Linked DNA regions of Homo sapiens. The protein of the gene in region 6 purifies or fractionates together with the protein of the main gene of each other region. This does not show direct contact. Each region holds a gene or a part of one and is shown on either strand. Other genes may lie near its edges.

Region 1 (2,205 bases), on a different chromosome or scaffold from region 6:
TAGTCCCAATTTCCTTCATGGGCCTTCACTGAGTTACTTGTAGCATTCTAATGGAAGAAGAGAGTTTAAGAGATTTAAGAGACAGCAGTTTGGATTTTGCTGGAAGTAAGGATTTTGCTGCTTGAGCACTTGTCTTTTTGGAGTAATTCCATTTTCTTCCATCAAGTTACATAAACTGTATCTGGAAAAAAAAAGTGGGTATGTTAATTCATTGTATTGTAGGATGTCTTCTCATAAATAAAAATGCTTTGTGGTCTTTACCATTTAACTGGCCCAGAAGTGTTCACAACATGCTTATCACAAACCCTGTTTATAAAACAAAGTCAGTATTATCAACTTATGTGCCAGAAAGCTCAATATTTGACACATATAGGGACTTCCAAATAATGTTTTTTGTTGTTGTTTTTGAGACAGAGTCTTGCTCTGCTGTCTAGGCTGGATTGCAGTGGCATGATCAAAGCTCAATGGCTGGGCACCATAGCTCACACCTGTAATCCCAGCACTCTGGGAGGCTGAGGTGGGCAGATCACCTGAGGTGAGTTCGAGAGTTCGAGACTGGCCTGGCCAATATGGTGAAACCCCGTCTCTACTAAAAATACAAAAATTAGCCAGGCGTGGTGGCGGGCGCCTGTAATCCTAGCTACTCGGGAGGCTGAGGCAGGAGAATGGCTTGAACCCAGGAGGTGGAGGTTGCAGTGAGCTGAGATCGTGCCACTGCACTCCAGCCTGGGAGACAAGAGCGAAACTCCATCTCAAAAAAAAAAAAAAAAAAAAAAAGCTCATTGGAACTCCTGGGCTCAAGCAACCCTCCTGCCTCAGCCTCCTGAATAGCTAGGACTGCAGACAGTCGCCACCACACCTGGGTAATTTTTGGGTGGGGGTAGAGACTAGGGTCTCACCGTATTGCCCAGGCTGATCTTGAACTACTAGCCCCAAGTGATCCTCCCGCATCAGCCTCCCAGGGTGCTGGGATTACAGGCATAAGCAACCACATCCAGGCCAAATACTTAACTGCTAAAAATAGAGGAATAGCATGTGGAGGAGGAAAAGAAAGAAGATCAATGACCTATTTTTTCATGACAAGTTCAGAAAAATCTCTCCATAAGCACAAATACCACAAGCAAAATCTCATTTGGGAAGCAAAATTTGAAATATTATTTCCAAATGATATACAATTAGAGACAATAAAGGGAACAGTAATATTATACTAAGTCTTTTTATTAACATAAATAAGAACCTGAAAGAGCCATAAAAATATTTTTCAATAGGGTACTACTGTTCATTCAAAGATATTTCACTCACAATTTCCCTTAAACTGCCCATCCAAAGATTACTGAAGTAGATGTGCTAATAAACTTGCCAAATCAGAAGACTATAAACTCCCAAAGATCTAGAAGGTATATCTAAACTGGGGGCTAGAGCATCAAGAAGAACAAATTACACTGTCTTCCAGCAAACAGAGGCAGTGTGGATCATATGCAGAATCCTTCTAATCGAAAGGGCTTAAGTATTCACTTGCCCTTAATTAAAAAGCAAACTTTATCCGATCTCATCCATTTACTGTGAGCAGTGGATGAGATTACTTTAAATAATTATGTTACAGATATTTTCCAAAAGTTGTTTTTCCTTATGTCCTATCTTTTCATTCTGCACCTAAAGAATAGAGGAAGAGGAGGAGGAGGAGAGGGAGCCTAGAGTCCTTTAAAGAAATGAAAGAGAAGCGTGAATTGTGTTTAATGTTTGGTAATTGTTTTTAAGTATTTAAGTCCCCATCTCCCAAAACAAGTAGCAATACCTAAAGTGATTTATAAGAAATCCTCCAAAGAGAGCTCTGCAAAGGGGTCCTTTCCTGAAGCTCTGTGAGGACTGTGACTGGAGGGGCTGGATGCTGCCGACAGCTGGGGGAAAAGAAGACAGAGAGAGGGAAAGAAAAAAAGATCTCAGAATGACAGAACATGAAAGCAGAAAATGTATGAAAGAAGAAGTGGTTTTGGTTTTGTCATCTTTAATAAATATAAGGGCAGTCTTTGTAGAAAATGGATTGTTAAGACAAAAGTTTCAGTCATATGTCAAGTTAAAAGGTATGCAATGGCATGTGTTTTTCAGAAAACAAACTCGTGCTTCTGAAGTTTCAAAGGAATAATGTCTTTTACCCAAAAGGTCGATATAAGCTGACCCATGGTTAAGAATTTTAATGTGTGTATG
Region 2 (3,500 bases), on a different chromosome or scaffold from region 6:
CCACATAAAAGTAGTTAATGAAGCCTAGGAGGTGCTGGGTCAGGTCCAAAGCCCTTAGCATGGTGTTCCAGGCCTTCCTCACTGGCCTGGTTCCAGCCCAGCTGGTAACTCTGAGCTCTCTTTTCAAACTCTGCCCCTCCCCTCGGCTCTACAGCTACTCTACTTTTCCCTTGGCACCCACTCTCACCTGGCCCCCAAGCACTTACGTTCCAGACCCCTCACTTGGCAGTTATCCTGTTTCCTAGTACTACTGGTTATCCTTTTTTAATGCATCTTGATTCTCCACCTATTCTATAAGCTTCTAGATGTCGGCTGCAGGTTGGGGAGGTCAGGTTTTCTGTTCTTCCTTCCCTCCCATTACTATGCCCAACATGCTGGACAATGCTACCATTTATAAGTTACTGAACACAGCCTCCAACTGCTACGGCATCAGAGCACCTGCCCACCTTACACAGGGCTTCATTATTTAGTCTCTGTTCCACCTCCTTGTGTCGGCTTGAGGATCAAATGGAGGACACAGTCGGTCTAGAGCTTTTTTCTTTTCAGGCAAGACTGAAAATCTCCAAAATTTAAGGCGTGCTGTGCTTGCAGAGAAGGCTATGTGTTTATTCATCCTCTTCTTCCAAGGGGTGACACAATCAGGATGCAATCCAACATCCTGTAGTCTGCCGCCAAACCCCACCAAGTCAGCTGTGTCTGGAAACCACACACACACACACACACACACACACACACACACACACACACGCAGCCGCAGAGCACTTACTGAGAAGCAGAGGCCATTCCATTCCTGTTTTCCCCCACTTTCTTACAGTTCTAGGCCCCAGAGGCTAAGTGTAGCACTGGGGGTTCTTGGGGTGGGTCTCACATAAACCACCTATCCACACACAGCAACTGCAGAGTGGCCTCCTCTCACACAGCTTGGCTCTCTCTGTGGAAGTGTGGGGTACAGGGAGGTCATCATCCCTAAGTTGTTACCCAGGCTACACTCTGTTATCGCAGGGGCCACACATCTGGGGCAATACCTGTTTAGGAGCCCCGGGGACCAGTCAGGGGTATGAGTCTATGGAGCATGCATGCACACACACACGTACACACACAGAATGGCCACTGGCCCTGATGGAGGCAGTGTTGTTACCTGGTCCCAGGAGACTGATCTGACCTCCAGGCTTTACCGAGGGGTAACTCTCACTAATGCCAACTCCCTGATCATAGATTTGGCATCGACATGTGATCTAAGTTGCATTGCTCACTCCAGGGTGCCTGCTCCAGGCATCTCTACCAACCTGAGTGGGGTTACAACCTAGGAGGAACCAGCAGCCCCTGAAGGACCTCCTGCACATCTCAGCTACCATGACTCAGAAATAAAGTCAGGTGACCCAGTGGCTACCAGCCCTGCAATTTGGTGGGTGAGACCACAGCTCCAACTCCCAGGGTGGGAGCCCATCAGCGTGATGCCATGATCGGTGCAAGTACAGGCAAGTGACGCAGGTTGAGCCTTTATGACCATCTTGAGACCATTAGGGGAGCTAGCCTAAGGCTGCAGTCTACTCACAGGATGGCAGAGCCAAGAAAATCACAGAGAAAAGAGGGAGCCAGAGTCTGCCCTATCTCTGGGCTTTTCCCCTTCCCCCTGGCCATATCCTCTTTATTGCTGAGGCTAGTTGAGTGGTATTATCTATTACTTGCAACTGAAACATCTTCGGTGCCATAGGATCCAAAGTAAAACTCTTTGGATGCAGAGGAACAGGGAGAAAGCGAGGAGAGCCAGGAAAGGAGGGACAGTGTGGAAGGTAAAACATCTCAGTATTCACAACCAAAGGAAGGAAGGGACGTCTGGGATGATACCAACACCTCACTGAGGACCACCATGTGTGAACTAAGCCAAGTGATTTACACCCAGGCTCTCACTTGGTCCTTCCTCACTGTGGATGACAGACTCCATGATTATCCCCATTTTACAGGGGAGGAAACTGAAGCACACAGAAGCTAGGGAACTAACCAGGGCAGAGCAGGGACCTGAGAACAGACCAAGCTCTTGTCCCAAACCACTCTGCTACATTGCCTCCCCTGTTCTTAGCAGGCTTCCAACTCATTCATTCAGTCACTCAACACACACGCACTGGACATGTCTGCTGTGTGCCAGGAACTGAGATGGCTGCCAGTGAAAAGATGAGGACATCAGATCCTTGACCTCAGAGGGCTAAGCCTAAACTCAAATGCCTTTAGAAGCCAGGCAGGTAACATATATAGGTGAAGGGGAGCAGCACCTTAATAACAATGGCAACAACAACAGACATAACTAACATGTATTGCATGCTTGCTTTGCGCAACCCTAATTTAATCTAATTTAGTCCACACATCAGCCCTATGACATAGGCCGTAGCAGCCTCCCCATTGTCTAGATGAGACAATAGAGGCATCAAGAGAGTGTGTAATTTGCCCAAGACCACACTGCTCAGGAGAGCAAAGCCAGGATCTGAATGGAGACAACATGACTGTGAAACCCACACTTCTAGTCACATCACTCCCCGCCTGCTGGATGAAAGACAGCCACTAACTTGGCCAAGCGTGGGGGTTCCCGGGGAGAGGTGGGAATGGCAGAGAACTGGAGAGCCTGTGCTTATGCTCAATCCATGGTGGCCACAGTTCCACAACGCCAGCCAACTGTGGGAACACAGATCTAGTGTTGCCAAATCTTCCCGTTTTTAAAGAGAACCCAAAAATCTCTCTCTATATATACATATATATATATATATATATATATATATATATATATATATACACACACATATATATATATGTGTGTGTGTGTGTGTGTGTGTATATATATATATATATGTATATATGTATATATATATGTATATATGTATATATATATATATGTATATATGTGTATGTGTGTGTATATATATATATATATATATGTATATATGTATATATATGTATGTATGTATTTTTTGAGACACAGTCTGGCTCTGTCACCCAGGCTGGAGTGGTGTGATCTCAGCTCACTGTAACCTCCGCCTCCTAGGTACAAGCAATTCTCATGCCTCAGACTCCCCAGTAGCTGGGATTACAGGCACGCAACCACCACGCCTGGCTGATTTTTGTATTTTTAGTAGAGACGGGGTTTCACTATGTTGGCCAGGTCGGTCTTGAACTCCTGACCTCAGGTGATCCACCTGCGTTGGCCTCCCAAAGTGCTGGGATTACAGGTGTGAGCCACCATGCCTGGCCCAGAAATCTATATTTTTATGTGAAATTCTGTAATTTTTAAAGATTGACAACCAATACAAACTGAGAATACCATGAGGGCCCAATACAACATGTCAGGGGGCTGGTGTGGGCCAAAGGCCTGCTGGTCTGTAAGCTGGCTCTGGTGGGAGGGTGAGCTGGACGGACCCTGCAGCCAGGCTCCATTCTCAAGTCAGGAAGCCCCATGGCAGACTGCTCTGTGGGGAGGAGCCTTCAGGCAGGACAACTTAACTTGGACCCCA
Region 3 (3,500 bases), on a different chromosome or scaffold from region 6:
AGATCACGCCACTGCACTACAGCCTGGGCGACAGCGCAAGACTCCGTCTCAAAAAAAAAAAAAAAAGTGTTATGTAATACATATTGTGTGTATAAAACTATATAACTATATATACATAAACTTTATCTATATGTATGTATATCTGTCTCTCTCCTCTCTCTCTCTCTCTCTCTACTGACTATAAAAACACATTTTTAAAAAAAAAGAAATGGGGGGGGTCTTGTTATGTAGTCCAGGTTAGTCTTGAACTCCTGGCCTCAAGTGATCCTCCCACCTTGGCCTTCCAAATAGCTGGGGGACTACAAGTGCATACCACCACACCCAGGTGAAAGTACATTTTAAAAGTCCTTCTCGGCTGGGCGCAGTGGCTCACACCTGTAATCCCAGCACTTTGGGAGGCAGAGGCGGGCGGATCACCTGATACAAGGAGTTCAAGACCAGCCTGGCCAACATGGTGAAACCCTATCTCTACTAAAAATACAAAAATTAGCCGGGTGTGGCGGTGGGCACCTATAATCCCAGCTATTAGGGAGGCTGAGGCAGGAGCATCGCTTGAACCTGGGAGGCGGAGGCTGCAGTGAGCTTAGATTGTGCCACAGTCTGGGCAACAGAGCAAGACTATGTCTAAAAAAATAAAAATAAAAATAAAATAAAATAAAATAAAATAAAAAAGGTCCTCTCCTGCCATGTCTTTCACCCACATCACATCGACCTTGGACTTAGCTTAGATTTCATGATCCACCAGCACCACCTTTGCCTTGTTCCCCTCTCCCTTTATTAAATTTGTCTAGTAAACTCCAACCCTGGTTAAATGCAACTCGCCCCTTCTCCACGCTTGCGGCTGAGCAGTTGAGTGTGGCTGGAGAACAACATGGCATGCTGGAGGGTTCCCTTGAAATCTGTACTCAAGGAAAGCTGAAATAACATACTAGCAACAACAGCATGGCAGCGGGGGAGCCTTTTGGAGAGAAGTGAAAGCTTGCTAAGGATTCTCGTCTCCTTTGAGGGGACAAAGCAGTGATCGAAAAACAAAATTCCTGCTTTTGTGGAGTTTACATTCTATGGTAGAGAGGACAAATTTCAGAGATTTCCTCTGCTCTGTATCCGCTCATGGTCAATCATGTTTCAATCAGGACAAATAAGCAAACAAACAAGTAAATCTAGAGGACGTCCGTACTGGCAGGTGTTATGCAGAAACTAGAGCAGAGTAAGGGAGACCAGCGGGGGCCTGTTCCTTAGCACAGGGTGGCTGGAGATTTACAGGAAGCTAGGGAGCAAGTTCTGTGGTTCAGGAAGAGCATTCCTGACAGAAAGGACACCAAGTGCAAAGGTCCTGAGGCAGAAACTTGGTTGGTGGCCAGTGTGCCTGGGGCAGAGCCATGAGGCGGGTGTGGGAGGAAGTGGGCCAGACAGGTAGTGGGGACGTGCCGTGCAGGGCCTCATGGGTGATTACAGAGGCCTCTGTTTGCTTGACATGGGACTGGACGCCACTGGAGGCTTCTGTACAGAGGGCGGTGTGATCTGATTTATCCATTAAGAGTCCCTCTAACATCTAGGTGAGACAGTGATGGTGGCTTGGACCAGGGTGGCAGCAATGGAAGGGGTGAGAAGTTGTTGGATTGGGGATCTATTCTGAGTGGAGCCAACAAGATTTCCTGATGGATGGGATGAAGGGCATGAGAGAGAAAGGAATCGGGCAGGGATGAATCTAAGGTTTTTGGTTGATGGAACTGGAAAAGCAGAGTAGGCCATTTATGGAGATAGAGAAGACTTAGCAGAAATAGGTTTGCTGTGGTGGGGGAGGGGCTTGCGTCAGGGAACCAGGAGCTTAATTTTGGATGTAGCAAGCTTGAAGTGTCCATGAGGTATCCAAACAGGGATGTCCAGCAGGCATACACACACATACGCTCACACACACACACACACACACACACGTGCCTGAGAGAGCTAGGGGTTGGAGATAACAAGCAGGGAGCACATCAGCTTCTAGACAGTAATTAATCCATGAGATGGGATGGAGTCACTGTGACACTGTCTAAACTTGGAGAAGAAAAGAGAATAAGTTCTGGAGTCTGCAAAGTTTAGAAATGATAGTGATCAGGAGACAATCAGTGAGGCAGGAGGAGAAATGAGTGAGGTGGTATCTCAGAAGGCAAGCAAAGAAAGCATCAGATGCTGCTACAGGGCCAAGTCAGAGGAGGACTGAGATTCAACCACCAGATATGGTTGCCTCAAGGTCCCTGGTGGCAGTGACTGGGTAGGGAAGAGGAGGTGGCTTCCAGCTGGCACCAGGATGGGCACTTTGGTGGGGATGAGGCGTCCTCGGGAACAGCAGGGGAGGCTGAGTAGAGACGTGGATGTGGGCAGGTTTGTGGAGATGGTGCTTGGTGGTACCAAGGGTCTGCTTGAGGGCCATGGCCATGCACAAGGCAAGATTTAACCAGGGTGGGGGTTACAATGTGAAGTACACTGTGGTGGCCACATTTATTTGCCACCTGGGCCAGGCTCTAGTCCCCGGTGACTCCATTAAACAGTGTAGGTGTTGCTGTAGAGGTATTTTGTAGCTGTGGTTGACATCTACAACCAGCTGACTTTAAGTAAGGAGATTACCCTTGCTACTCTGGACAGGCAGTATATACTCAGTTCAAAGACCTTAAAAGTGAAACTGAGGTTTCTGTAAGAAGAAATTCTAACGTGGGACCACAGCATCAATTCCTGCCTGAGTTTCTGGTCTGCCCTACAAATTTCAGACTTGCCTAGTCAGCCCCCACAATCATGTAAACCAATTCTGTGAATTAAATCTCAACCTCTCTTTCTCCGTCTCACCCACCCATCTCTCTCCTTGCCCTTCTCCACACATCCCCCTGCTGGTGTTTCTCTGGAGAAACTTTATGGATACATACAACCAGAAGAGAAAGGGGAAGGGGTGAAGACTATGCAAGCGAACAAGCAGACCAGGGAACTAAAGGCAGTGAGGCACGAACAGGCTGAGCCATGGTGGGCATGGCTGGATGTCTGGGTGGGGTTAAGGAATCGGGACAGCTGAGGCACTAGAGGGCATGAGCTGGACAGAGAGGAGCTAGTGCTCAGAGTAGAATGCCTGCAACTGAGAAGAAGGAGAGGACGTGCTTACTGGTGATGACAGGGGAGTGGAGGGCAACATCATTGGGTGAGAGGAGGCCAAGGATGAGAGAGGCGAGGGCATTGGTAGGGTCATCTACATGAACGCTGAATTCACCAATAATAATGCCAGAAAGGAGCTGAAATCACTGAGAAATGATGTGGAGTCACTGGGAAGGGGAGCAGGCGGCTGTGGGTGGCCACCACAAGGAGGGAACGGTGTCGGGGTTTGTACAGTCTGAGGGTATCCTCTTCAAAGCTGGAGAGGCTTAGAGCAGCATGAGGGAGAACGGTTCGGAGGCAGCAATGATGAGCATGAAAGATGTCTACCCCATCTCCAGGCCTGGAGGTGTGGGCAGCACGGGAGAGAAAACAACCGT
Region 4 (3,500 bases), about 30 Mb from region 6:
TGCTATGGGGGACCCATAATCTGAAAACCAGTGCCTTAGAAATATCATTGCTAGCTGGAGGCTATAGTGGTCAGCCAGGGTGAGGCTGGTTGAAGTACCAGCTTCTCTCCTGGTAGTCCCCTCCTTTCCATAAATATCCTTTCCAACCCCATGATAGACAGTGAGGAAAGGTAGGGATGCTTTTTCTTTCTCAGAATCTTTCAAGGTCCTCTTGGAGAAAACCATAGGTGATGTGACTGGAGATATGACAACTCTCTGGGAATCAGAGAATCAATATTACAACCCACTCCCCAGAGTGTCTATCTGAAACTCTCTAGGCCTTAGCTGTTGACCTGGGCTTTGTGACAGAAACAGACTCCCTATATCCGTTTTCTCATCCTTCCCTGCAGGCTTGAAGAAATACCAGTCTTCCTTTATTCTTAAGTAGTAATCCCTCTGCTGAGGGATGTCGTACCAAACTTATCCTTATTTTCCACTGCCTTTTTCCTGCCAAATGTTATCTCCCCCATCTTTAAAATCAAAACTAAAAAACTTATTTTTTTTTTTAGAGACAAGGTCTCACTTTGTCACCTAGGGTAAAGGGCAGTGGAGAGATCATAGCTCACTGTAACTTTGAACCGGGCTCAAGCGATCCTCCTGTATCATCTTCTGGAGTAGTTGGGACCACAGGCAGATGCCACCATGTCTAGCTAATTAAAAAAATTTGTTTTGTAGAGATCGGGTCTCACTATGTAAAAACCTTTGTACCACCAAGTTGTTACACACCATGTTATGTAAAAAGCTTTTAGTAAAACAAACTTTAAATGATAAAAGTAACACTTGCTCATTACAGAAAATTTGGAAGTTAAAAAAAGATGTGAAGAAAAATAAAAGCACTCATAATCATAGCACTTAGGGATAACAACTTGGTGCATTAATATTTCTTTTCAGACCTTTCCTATACTTACATAAAACATATACATTTTTCATAATCAGATAATACTGTATCTTGCTATGTCACAAATACTTTCCAAGATATTAATACTTTTAATAGCTGTATAAAACCCGACACACAGCTATAATCTGAATGTAGTAATTCCCTACAACTTGATTTCTTTCCAATTTTTCAGTGTTATAAGTAATGTTTCAATGAACAGTTCTCTACATACATCTTTGATGGTATTTCTGATTATTTCCTTAGAATAAAATCCTGGAAGTGAAGGGTAAAAGGGTATGAACCCCTTTAAGTTTCCATCTATCTATCTCATCTATCTATCTATCTATCTATCTATCTATCTATCTATCTATCTATCTATCTATCCATCTATACTACTTTCCAGAAAGGCTGACTACTTCTCCAGTAACTTCTACTAGTAGTTACTGAGAATTCTGTCTTATTACTCTACAATAACACTGAAGGTCCACTATGTTGGACAAAGCATTCACTTGTTCTCAACAGGTACTATTAATAAAATTCTTATTTCCTCTTTTTCATAGCTCAAATGATTGAATAAATGGCATGTATCTACTACTTCACTTCACCACCCACACTTTATTTTGCTACAATGTTTCCTTCTCCAATCATTTTACTAAAATTACTCTACCAACATTAGTGACCTCTTTCTAGTCATATGAATACATTTTTTTTTTTTTTGAGACGGAGTCTTGCTCTGTTGCCCAGGCTGGAGTGCAGTGCTGTGATCTCAGCTCACTGCAAGCTCTGCCTCCCGGCTTCACGCCATTCTCCTGCCTCAGCCTCCTGAGTAGCTGGGACTACAGGCGCCCACCACCACGCCCGGCTAATTTTTTGTGTTTTTAGTAGAGACAGGGTTTCACCGTGTTAGCAAGGATGGTCTCGATCTCCTGACCTCGTGATCCGCCCACCTCGGCCTCCCAAAATGCTGGGATTACAAGCTTGAGCCACCGTGCCCGGTCATGAATACATTTTTTTAGATTCTCATCATTAGCCCTTCTGACTCTACTCTTCCCATTTTTGTGGCCATTTGATTCGACTGATCTCATCTTTCTACAAGGATTCAATGCCTCCTTACATTGTACCACCAAATTCTCTCACTTCATCTCCAACCTCTATGACCAATCTTCTTTAATGTCTTCTTTCCCAGTTCCTATTATTTACACCATGTCACACCTCCAAGGCTTAGTCCTTGCTTCTATTCTGTGCTACTCTCTGGAAGGACTCCTCCATTCTGTTTTAAAAATCAACTCCAGACTAATTGCTCCCATATCTTTATCTCCATAACTTTACTCTTCCTTTGCCCTCAGGTCTTCAACCTCTCACAACCTATAACTCAGTGCCACCTAAACCTACTCAATAATGCACCATCTTCTCTGCCAAACTAACACAAATCTTTGATGGCGTTTCTGATTATTTTTCCAACTTTCTTATTTCTGACAATGAGGCAATACTTCTGTAGTCCTCAACATTAAAAAACTTGTCTTTAAGTCCTTCCTTACTCAGTATCTCCAAACTCATCCTTTCTTCAAGACACTTCCTAAATATATTCGTTATTTCCATCATCACCTCACACATCAGTTACTGTAATATCTTCATAGGTAGCAGCAATTCAACTGGTATGTAGTTGCTGAGTTAATTTTCCAGAAATGTTTCTTGTGTTACTTCTCCTGCTAAAAGGTTTTTTTGGTCCAAATTCATTTGGTTCAAACGTCTCCAAACACTACACTTTACCTCCTATTGCCTCCTGATCAAAATCCCTAAGGTAATCTTTCCTCTCTCATATCCTTTTTCAGACTCATTACCGCCCCTACATGTGCTCACAACTCATTACCGCCCCTACATGTGCTCACATCACTCTCACACCCCTTCATTTCAATGGAGCCTTCAAGAATCTCAGAATTCTTGAAGCCAATGGTATATTATATATGTTTGTTTGTTCATTGCAATAAATCAGCCCTAGGAGTGGGGCAGTCCATTCATTTTAGAGCCTTCACAGTATACACACAGGGCATCCATTGTGTACTCAATAAATACTTGGCAAGACCTGGAAAGGAGCAATAAGTAAAGCCAAATGTGGGGGTAGTTAAAATGCGTACGTTCTCATTTAGGTTTGGTTAGCAAGAACAAACAAAAAGAATAAGGTAGCAGAATGTGGTAGAAATAAAATCAGAATGGGAGCCAGGGGATACTGGCTATGTCCCAGGTCTGTACCTGTGTGGTCCTTGGCAAGCTGATTCCCTTCTTGGCCCTTAAGTTTCCTCATCTGTAAAAATTAGAGGACTAAATTACCTGACTTCTAAGATACCTCTCTACTCTAATGCTCTGAGATGTGGGTTAAACTAAAAGGAAGGCAGCCCATAGTCCATTACATTGGTAACAATGACGGTAACAAATTCATTTTCAAATCTGACCAGTCAACAGAGTTTAGGGGAGCAAAACTTTCTTTCAATAAGAAACATTCTTGTAAGGTCATTCCATTCCTTTGAACTAATAATCATTCTGTGGAAAGATACAATATCCTAAAAGTTATATCTATTTTATTCTT
Region 5 (2,492 bases), on a different chromosome or scaffold from region 6:
AAGAGCTGCAATAAAATAGCTTTTCTTAAAAAAATCATTTTTTACCTTCTTTCTCCTGCAACAAGTAGATTACAAGACCTCTGAATGCAGGGCCTTTGCAGGCTGAGCCTGCTCTGATGGGCACACAGCCCAAGAGGGTGGAAGGCACCATCTTTCAGCTCCTACTCCTCTGAGCAGGCCTCATTTGGCAAAGTATGCGAGAGTGTCCTGCTGTCCTCTGGAACCCCACACCTACCCAACCTCAGTCCTTGTGGCGCTGCTGGAGGGGTGACATTACAGACACCCCAGATTCTCCCATGAGATACACCAGACCTCCCTTCCTGGAAAGCAGCCTTGTAAGTGGGGAGGCTGGCCCAGCCCCAGTTACTCCTGCACCCCTGGAGACCACTGGTAGGAAGCCTGCAGGACTCCTCTGAGGGCCTGACTGCAGTGATGGCCCCCTTGCCCTGGCACCACACATTTCAGGAATTATGAGCAGCTCACCAAAAAGCACATGTTGTCCTTGCCTATGAGTAAGAAACACAGGAGAGTCCTTTTCACCACCTTATGAGCTGCAACAAAATAGCTTACCTAGCTTTTTGCAGTTTGTGGTTATGCTTTAAGACACTCACACACACACACATGCACGCGCACATGCATGCACACACTTACATTATACACATATATATACCATTTCTCAGAGGAAGAAATATTGACATCACATATAAGCCCCTTTAACTCAAGAAAGCCCCCACCGCCCCAACCTCCCTAACCCCCATTGCCTGCCAGTTTCCCCAAGGAAAAAAAAAATCTAAAAATCTTTCCACTATCCACAGTTTTTAGGTTTCTTCTCAGTTTCTTGTGAACTTTCCCAAATACTGCATAGGATGGACAGAAAACCCCATCCAGCGAGGCCTGAGGGCTTCTCAGCTGGGTCATATCTTCCTGGAAAAGGAGAAAGTCCTCCAGTTAGTGTTTACAGTGAGATGTTTCCACACCACAAGCCCAGCCTGTACTGCCACCCTCTTCTCACATCGGCCCTCAAGTGTGCCCTGGCCTGAGACTGGATTCAAGGCTGCCCTAGACACATTTATAGATTGCCCTGTGGATTCAGAAGCTTGTCAGCTTTGTCTGCCACCCTGCCACAGTGTCCCCTGCCCACCGTCTTCCTCACTAAGAAAGAAGGTGGTGTTCATTAAGGATTTGCCAAACCGAATCTCTTTCCCCTTTTCTGCCTTCAAGTTGTTGCAGCTTGTTTACTAGGAGAGGATATCTGAAGTCTTATTTAACCTTCATCCAGACCAAAGTTACAGTCCTCTCTCCCCACCAGGGATTGGGGTGGGGGGTGCTGGCAGACAGCCTGGTTAAGAGGTCCCCCTTAGCTCAGGAGACCCTGTCTTGATCCCAGGCTATTTGCAGATGGCTCCATGCTGGGCTGCCCCTGAGGCCCCTCTCTAGGGGTGATGACATCTGGCTGGAGTATCTCTATTTGTGATTCTCAGTTTACCCGCATCAGAAACACTTTAGACGCTTGTTTAAAAATAGACTTTCCTGGATCCCACTCCAGGGCTATTGAGTCAGAATAGCTGGGGCTGGGCCAAGTGTGTGCATTTTAGCAAGCAACCCATATAATTCCAATGAACACTGAGGTTGGCAAGCCTTCATCATAGGATTGGTTCTGAGTTTTGGGGGCCTAGAATCATCAGCTGGAAATAAACTTGTCCACACTGGGCATGTGCAGAGAGTGGAAAGTGAATTATAAAAGGATAAAAAAGTGAGCTGTGTATGGCCAAGCCCAGAATGACATATTCTAGAACTCCAGTTATCCATATTGTAGAACTCACTGTAGTCCATGTGAAGGGCACCACCTGTGTTGTTCAGTGTACAACCCACACATTTGTACCTAGCAGTCCTGCCCAGACCCTCTGACCCCTCTGAAACTCCCAGGACATTATACACCCCTAACGTCCTGAGGGTGGGACAAACTACGCCCCCAGCCAAGCAGTCTACACAACTGCTTGTGTTGTCCAGAGCCAGGCAAAAGGATGCTTCTGTGTCCCTGGGAGCACAGGCCTAGCCCTTGTCTCTGAGACTGGCTGAGGCTGTTGCAGTGGTCCCAGAGGCATCCCTGAGGGTGGGGTGATTCTTACCTGCAAGCCTAACTTGCTTGGACAGTCTCTTCTTAGAATCGGGAGGTGAAGTTCCTGAGGCTGTTGGCCCCAGCTAAGGTTCCCAGCATGTTCCTATCGAAACCTTGCTGCAAAGGGAGAAACAGCAACCAAATGACACAAAACTGTGTGGGGCTTGCTGTGGGGTCAGACACTGTCCACTGCCCTCCCAGAGCAACCTCGGCTCACACAGCCTCTCTCTTATCACTAAGTACATGTGTCAGGGCGAAAACTGGCCTCAGTAACTGTGTAACAAAACATAATAACTCTCCATGAGTCGGTGCAATGTGTTTGAACTTCCACTGACACATGTGAATTTCCTACTTGCATTTGCAGAAACCTGAG
Region 6 (3,500 bases):
ATTCCTACCTCAAGTCTGTCTGTTCGCATTAATTTCTGTGCAGCAGCTGCAGCAGCTGCAGGTACAGGGACACCCGGATTCCCTGTAACCAACATTGGTGCAGTCGGCAAGATCTCTGCCGGGACCAGGCTTGGAGAAACAGGTCCCAGATAGGGATTAAAGGCGGCTGCTGATGCATTGGTGGCTAAGCTTGGTGCAACTGAAAACATTGGCTGAAAAATAAAATAAAAGCAAAATTTAACATGCAGGTCTCAGCTCAAAGTTGATATTCTTAATTATACATTTGTCCTCCATCCATCTATCCATTCTTCCTTAGGCCTTCCCTCCTTCCCTTTAATCCTGTGTTCATTTACTATCATTTAGGGTAAGGCTGTTTTATTAAATAAACATTCATCAAATCAATGTTTTTCTAAAATATAATAAGTAAAATATCCATTAAATTATTCACTGGAATTTTGTAGCTGAGGGTCTATAATACTTGTATTTTTTTTTTGAAAAATAGATAAACTATGCAGAAACTTCTTGTGGTCATCTAATCTTCATCTTTGTCCTGATTTAATTCTAGATATTTGTCTAACAAATACATTTTGTAATTGCTATGTCAGATGTACTTGAAAGACCTGTTTACAACTGTTAATAGGTTGCAAGTGTCCTATTATCTGGAATAAATAAAGTAGAACTCCCAGGGGATAAAAGAGTTTCACAGTCAATGTAAGCTGTAAATAAATCTCATGGGGTATGTGAAAGGTGATGATGACACCTTGCCTTTTGAGCACATAAGATAAAGTGTTTGGTATATTTACTTGATGGTGATTTTCCTGGGGGAAATTATAAGTGTTCCACTAGCCTATCACACCTTATTAGGGGAAAACAAGTCTGAAATGTGAAGTTTGAAGTAGAACTGCTACTAAAGAAATGCTACATGATTGGTCAAGGAAATACATATGGCAGCACTGAATAAACTGCTACAAGACAGAATTTCTTCCAGAAATGCTTTCGTGGATATATAAGGATTGTTTCTATTTGTTGATATGCAAACTTGCATATCATAAAATATATTTGTTCTTGAATAGCATTAATTTACCTGAAATCTAACAATTTGTTTTTCTAGTATTTAAAGTATAACAGAACACAATTTCATACCTTATTCATAGTACATTTTTAACTTCCTAATAGAGTCTCAATTCTAATTCTTGAAGTTTAATGCTTCGTTTAATAATGTTTGTTTCTGAAACACAAAAGCTTGTAGGCAAAACGGATGCTGTTCTTTAAGGTAATATTTAACAATTTATTTTCTTTACTCAGCAGTAATGAACAGAATTATAGAAGACTCTTTAGAATAAAAGAGACATTAGAATGTATTAATAACTAATTCTGCCATCTGACAGGAATAAGAAGTTACATGATATCTGAATATATGTAGTATTCAAGAGAGCTCTGTAGTAAAACTTTTTGCAATATAAGGTATATATTACAAATGTAATTCTTATAGTACAAAAGAAATTTGTTAAAAGATAAAATATATCCTCTATTCACTCTGGCCCTGATTCTATATTTAGAAAAATAAAATGAATTTCAAGTATTCCCTTTTTCTTAGGGCAGTGGTTTTCAACTGAGTTATTTTGCCTCTCAGGAGACACCTGGCAATGTCTAAAGACATTTTTGGTTGTCACAGCTGGAGGGGAACTATTATATTCAATGGATGGACGCCAGGGATGCTGCTAAGTGTCCTACAACATACAAGACAGCCCCTCGCAACAAAGAATTATCCAGCCCCAAAAGTCAATACTGTCAATGTTAAGAAGGCCTTTCTTAGGGAACTCTTCTGTTGACCTCAAAAATTGCTTGGGAAACAAACTCTTTGCATTTAGCTATACATTTTTACTAACAAAAATATGAAAAAACAGAATATGTAATACCTAATGTGATTCATTGAGAAGAAACAATACAATATAGATTATACCATTTCAACTTAAAATAATTATGCCTCTGAACATGTTGGTTTGAATGCCATGTTTAGCTGCTCTGCCAGGTCGATGGCTCTTGCCTGATGAAGTGCCCTCAAGTAGCACCTCTAATCCCCAACCCCTCCCAGCACAAAGCAGCAACCTGCAGACAACAAGAACTATCTGTGCATTCCAAATCTTATCAACAAGCTGTCAGAAACTAGGGCCTAGGGCATTCTCTGTCCACCAACACTTCCCTGAGCCGCAGCTGACTTAATGCTGTGCCACTGTCCACTCTCTGCCCAGGTGACAGCAGGACAAGGATTGATTGTATACTGAATATATGTTGAACTTGGATTTCTATTCAAGGATATTCAGGTTAAACTTGTACTTTGTTATACATTGTCAGATTGCATATGAAAATCCAGCCAGACCAGCACCCTAATTTCTATATTAGTCATTTAAGAATTATAAGAAATTTAGCATAGAAGACTAAAAGAGTCTATGTCAGGGGACTAACAGACTAGTTTAGCAAATGGACAACAGAAGCTATTCATTATCATTCCTCTTTGCATTCTTTTACTATGAATAAACATGTATTTCCAGATAGTGCATTTTTAATGTATACTTCAGAAAGTTATTGAGATGTTTATATTATTGCACATAATCTACTATAATTATTTAAAAGCAAAGGTCAAATTTAAAAATGTTTTTGGAAGAAAAAGCAATTTTTATTTTAATAAAATGAGACCAGAGGCTAATAAAACTCAGCTCTCTAAATCTCGTCAAATAAAATACACTGGAAATCTAAAAATGCATATGATGCAGCTGTTGCACATTACAGGCAGAATAATACTTTTATTATGTAAAAATACTGCTTTTAATAACTGGCAATAATATTTCCTGAGTTGTTTCTATAGAGTCATCAAGACAATTGATCTTTCACTTTAATTCAGCAGAGCAAATTCAAATCTGAACAATTTTAGGGCACTGTCCCCAAGTAAAGTCGGTAGGAGCGTTTAAAAATGTGAAACATCAACTATTCAGCAAGCACTATCTCAAATTGTTCCCTCTTTCGATAAGTAGAGCTATTTGCCGAACAGGCAGACAATCAGTAACAATAGCTTTATACTTTGAAACTTGATTCCAAAAGACAGACAGACAGACAGACACACACACACACACACACAAACACACACCATTCCTTCATTTATTTTAAATTTTTGTAAATTTGTTACATCACTTTAGTTATATTGTTTTTTCAAGGAGCGCCATGTTGAAGATAGGTCACTGCTAGCCCCATCAGAGAGTGCCCTAATCAGAGAAATCAGATTAGGAAAGCACTTGACCTGCACTACTGCCAGTTTTCTATTCCAAAAGCTAACCTGCAGGGGGTTCAGCAGAATCTCAAAGACAGATATTAATGCAATGTTGTTATCAAGTGGCATCCTGTTTTCTCTGAAGGATAACATATAACAATGTAATTGGTATATTTGATACTGACTATATTCTTGTGATAATGATTTGTAAGTATCTCTGTTCCTGAAAGACATA
Region 7 (3,469 bases), on a different chromosome or scaffold from region 6:
ACAGCACCAGCCACCCCACCTCTGCTCCGTGCACCGTCAGGGCCCTTAGCATGTACATGTACATGTGCATGCCCACATGTGGGGGCACCTCCCTTTTCCCCAGCACCCCGTTTCTTAACATTTCACCCTGTTACCACTTCACAGAGCAGGGACAGAGACTCCAGGTCCCACGGCGGGCAAGCGCTGCAGCTGAGCTTTGTGCCCAGGCAGGCGGCCGGCTCTGTGGGCTTAAGGCCCTACTCATGGCTTCTTTGGGCCTCTGGGGTGACAATGCAGATGGGCGGCAATCAGCCCACAGCCACAACCCATCAGCCCTCAGACCAACCCAAGAGCTTGACGTCTCCCTACCCAGCCACCCACGGTCCTCACCGCGAGGAGAGGCCATAGGGGGGCGGCCCTGGAGGTCTTGTGCTGGCCCCTGGCATGGCTCACCGCCTGGCCCTGCTCAGCAGGGGGTCGAGGGAGTCCAGCCCCTAGTATCTGGCCAGCTAGTCGGAGGGTGAGTAGTTGGCAATGTTTATTGGGAAACAGCAAACTCTGCTGGGCACCCAGGCCAGCCGGGAGAGCACGGCCCTGGAAGCGGGGCCTGGAGAGGAATCCAGGGCCGTATGGCTGGTCAGGCAGCCAGGGAAGGCCTGGCAGGTGCACGGACCTGAGGCTGCCCAGATAGGAGGAGCCGGGGGTGGTAGAGGCCAGCTGAACGGTGGAGGCTGGCACTGTCCATGGCACAGGAGGTGGCCCTGGTGCTCAGGCCTCCAGGCTGGGGTCATCAGGCGGCAAGTACATGGGCTCGATGTGGGCCCACCCACGGGCCTGCTCATCGGCCCAGGCGAGCAGCTCTGCGGCGCGGTGCAGGAAGATCAGGAGCAGGGTGTGCACGTCGCCCTCGGCTGAGTGGGCTGCGCTTGGCTCTGCCCGGAAGTAGCGGTGGAAGAGGCTGCCGAGGCTGTAACCCTGGCGGCCCCGGGCCCGGGTGCCGTGGCTGTGGGCGCGGTCCAGGCCCCGCAGGGCCGGCAGCGTGTCCAGGCAGACAGTGTCCCGGGGCAGGCGGGCACCCAGGCGCCGCAGCTCGGCACACAGCAGGGGGAAATCATAATCAAAGCCATTGTGGGCCACAAGGCAGATGGGCCCTGCCTGGCGGCTCAGGAAGGCCTGCAGCGTCCGCACCACGGCGCCATCAAAGCCAGCCTTCCGGCATCGCGCCAGGCCCTCACTGCTCAGGCCGGTGATCTCGCTGGCCTTGGCAGTGAAGGGGCGCTCCGGGCACATGCACAGCGTGAGCTTGTCCAGGACCCGGGGCAATACTAGGGCACCAGACTCGTCGTGCTCCGGGTTCTCCAGGGAGGAGCGGTGGACAGCAAAGAGGGACAGCTCGGCAATCTCGGGCTCCACACTGGGGAGCCCAGTGGCTTCCAGGTCCAGGAAGACAAAGGTCTCGGCCCGGGGTGCCTCGGACATGGTGATGTTCCCACGGGGATAGCAAGTCCTCAAACTGTCCGAGCGAGAGGCACAAACCCTGAGGACTGGAGAGAGGGGTTCGCCCGGGCCCTGCTGTGTACCATCCTCCCCCTAGCCAAAGCTCTGACCCTTCTGGGGCTCACTTCCTGCCACCCCCGACCACAGCACCTGTGACCTTTGGCTCTGGGAGCGTCAGCCCCACTCCTGTCACCTACTGAACAGAAAAGGCAGGCCTCAGAGCGCTCTACTGCCTGCCTCCAGCCACAGTCCCCAGCAGGGATTGGGAGAGGCAGAGGCAGCTCAGGGACCGCACCTTGGCGGGGTCCAGCCCCTTCACCGGAATGCCTTGGCTGGGAACCTGGGGCATAGCACACTGGGTCTCCAGCCCTGGAACCAGCTGCCGGGAAGCAGGCAAGCAGCCACCCGAAAGAGCCCATGCAGTGCACCCAGCTCCCGCTGGGCTCGACCTCCCCACCCTTGTCCCTGGCACACAGGTGCTGGTCCCGAGCTGGCCTCTGCCTGCTTGCCCCCAGGCTCCCGGGGAGACTGTCCTTGCCAACCCCACCACACCAGCTTACCTGGGGCGGGCACTGACCGGCTTCCTGGGCTTCTGGGCACCTGTCGCCACACAGGCTGCTCTAGGCGGCCTTTAATCAGCGGCCGCAGCCCGCCCCCAGCTGCCTGTTGGCCAACAATGAGGCCTGGGGCCTCAGGACCTGCGCAGCCGGCTCGCTCGCCACCCCCTCGCTAGCTCACAGCCACTGAGACACACGCCCCGTGTTTACAAATTAGGAAGCAGGCCCCGAGCTCTTCACAGGCACGGGGAGGAAGCCAGAGTGGTGCGGAAGGCAGTAACCTCCACCTAGCCAGGCTGTGGCTGCCAGGCCTGGCAGGCCTGGGGTCAATGCCTCCCCCATGCTGGGGCCAATGCCTCCCCCATGCTGGGGCCAGTTACACAAAGGCAACAGGTCCTCTTTGCCAGGCCTCAGTCTCCCCGTCACTGGAGATCAGGTGCCGCTCGTGGGGATGAAGCGAGCTCTGGAGTGTGACCAAGGTGCCCACACATGCCGTGCTCAGCCTCCAAAGGGGAAGGGGTGCTCCCCCAAAACCTAGGGATGGGGCAGCCTCGGGAGATGCTATCTGCTTTAAGGACGTCGCTTCATCATGTCTACCGTGCACCTAACAGTGGCTGCTGGGGAAGGAAGGGAGGTGGGCCTGGCCCGGGAGCTGTGCAGGCCGCAGCTGAGCTAATGCTTCCTCCACCACAGATAAGCAACGTTAGGGGGTGGGCCAGGAGCGCCGGGACTACAGGAGGAGTGAAGCCCAGCCCCTCGGACCCCAGGCTCAGGGACCTGCCCTGTCTATCCCGCTCCAGGCAAAGGGCACCAGGTCCTTCCCGGTCCTGCGAGCAGTGGCGCCCTGAAGACCTCATTCTGGAGCAAGAGACAACAGCCCTTGATGGTGGGTGCACTGCAGGGCCAGCCCCATGCTGGGGGCACAGAGAGGTGACCAAGAGGAGTCCCTTGGCCTATAAATCAGGTGGTGCACCTGCACCATGGTGACCACAGGCCTGCCCGGCCTCCCACCTCTCACAGTGGTGGCTGGGGGATGCCTCAGGCGACTGGGATGGAGGGGGGTCTGGCACCTGGCTCCTCCTGGCCTCCTTGCCTTGTGTGCCCACAGGGACCTTGGGGAAGCAAAGGAGATGGTGCCAGGAGGGAGCAGGGTGGGGCGGGCAGCAGCAGGTACAATGGCCCCAAGGAGGCAGAGGCCCTACCAGTCACGCCTGTTCCGGTACTCACAGGGAGGGAGGCAGCTGTGACAGGCACACTGCTCAGGGAGATACTGGGTCACCCTGGGAAGCCCAGACAGCATCTTCCTGGACAACCAGTCAGGCTGAATTCCCCAGCCCAGAGCTGAGCGCCCAGCCAGGGAGGAGCAGGAAACTGGTACCCCGCGGGGGATCCAGGGGCACTCAAGGAGGGCGGCTGAGGGGTGCGTCTCGCACAGG

What was found.
Region 1: the proteins of MBNL1 (region 6) and PICALM purify together in Homo sapiens (affinity purification with mass spectrometry; one large-scale study listed by BioGRID and IntAct). This does not show direct contact.
Region 2: the proteins of MBNL1 (region 6) and SEPTIN8 purify together in Homo sapiens (affinity purification with mass spectrometry; one large-scale study listed by BioGRID and IntAct). This does not show direct contact.
Region 3: the proteins of MBNL1 (region 6) and NSDHL purify together in Homo sapiens (affinity purification with mass spectrometry; one large-scale study listed by BioGRID and IntAct). This does not show direct contact.
Region 4: the proteins of MBNL1 (region 6) and FAM162A purify together in Homo sapiens (affinity purification with mass spectrometry; one large-scale study listed by BioGRID and IntAct). This does not show direct contact.
Region 5: the proteins of MBNL1 (region 6) and PKP1 purify together in Homo sapiens (affinity purification with mass spectrometry; one large-scale study listed by BioGRID and IntAct). This does not show direct contact.
Region 7: the proteins of MBNL1 (region 6) and TREX2 purify together in Homo sapiens (affinity purification with mass spectrometry; one large-scale study listed by BioGRID and IntAct). This does not show direct contact.

The regions. Positions count from the first base shown.
Region 1 is NC_000011.10:85,958,880-85,961,084, forward strand, and holds part of PICALM (phosphatidylinositol-binding clathrin assembly protein), read right to left. Parts: intron 1,899-2,205; coding exon of another isoform or gene 1,806-1,898; exon of another isoform or gene 1,796-1,805; intron 182-1,795; coding exon 167-181; 3' UTR 1-166. UniProt on the Homo sapiens protein: Cytoplasmic adapter protein that plays a critical role in clathrin-mediated endocytosis which is important in processes such as internalization of cell receptors, synaptic transmission or removal of apoptotic cells.
Region 2 is NC_000005.10:132,767,240-132,770,739, forward strand, and holds part of SEPTIN8 (septin-8), read right to left. Parts: intron 1-3,500. UniProt on the Homo sapiens protein: Filament-forming cytoskeletal GTPase. May play a role in platelet secretion. Seems to participate in the process of SNARE complex formation in synaptic vesicles.
Region 3 is NC_000023.11:152,851,563-152,855,062, reverse strand, and holds part of NSDHL (sterol-4-alpha-carboxylate 3-dehydrogenase, decarboxylating), read right to left. Parts: intron 1-3,500. UniProt on the Homo sapiens protein: Catalyzes the NAD(P)(+)-dependent oxidative decarboxylation of the C4 methyl groups of 4-alpha-carboxysterols in post-squalene cholesterol biosynthesis. Also plays a role in the regulation of the endocytic trafficking of EGFR.
Region 4 is NC_000003.12:122,387,182-122,390,681, reverse strand, and holds part of FAM162A (protein FAM162A), read right to left. Parts: intron 1-3,500. UniProt on the Homo sapiens protein: Proposed to be involved in regulation of apoptosis; the exact mechanism may differ between cell types/tissues.
Region 5 is NC_000001.11:201,328,506-201,330,997, reverse strand, and holds part of PKP1 (plakophilin-1), read right to left. Parts: intron 2,237-2,492; coding exon 2,162-2,236; 3' UTR 2,130-2,161; intron 925-2,129; 3' UTR 1-924. UniProt on the Homo sapiens protein: A component of desmosome cell-cell junctions which are required for positive regulation of cellular adhesion.
Region 6 is NC_000003.12:152,429,429-152,432,928, reverse strand, and holds part of MBNL1 (muscleblind-like protein 1), read right to left. Parts: intron 213-3,500; coding exon 9-212; intron 1-8. UniProt on the Homo sapiens protein: Mediates pre-mRNA alternative splicing regulation. Acts either as activator or repressor of splicing on specific pre-mRNA targets. Inhibits cardiac troponin-T (TNNT2) pre-mRNA exon inclusion but induces insulin receptor (IR) pre-mRNA exon inclusion in muscle.
Region 7 is NC_000023.11:153,443,973-153,447,441, forward strand, and holds TREX2 (three prime repair exonuclease 2), read right to left. Parts: upstream 2,085-3,469; 5' UTR 2,037-2,084; intron 1,524-2,036; 5' UTR 1,459-1,523; coding exon 748-1,458; 3' UTR 501-747; downstream 1-500. UniProt on the Homo sapiens protein: Exonuclease with a preference for double-stranded DNA with mismatched 3' termini. May play a role in DNA repair.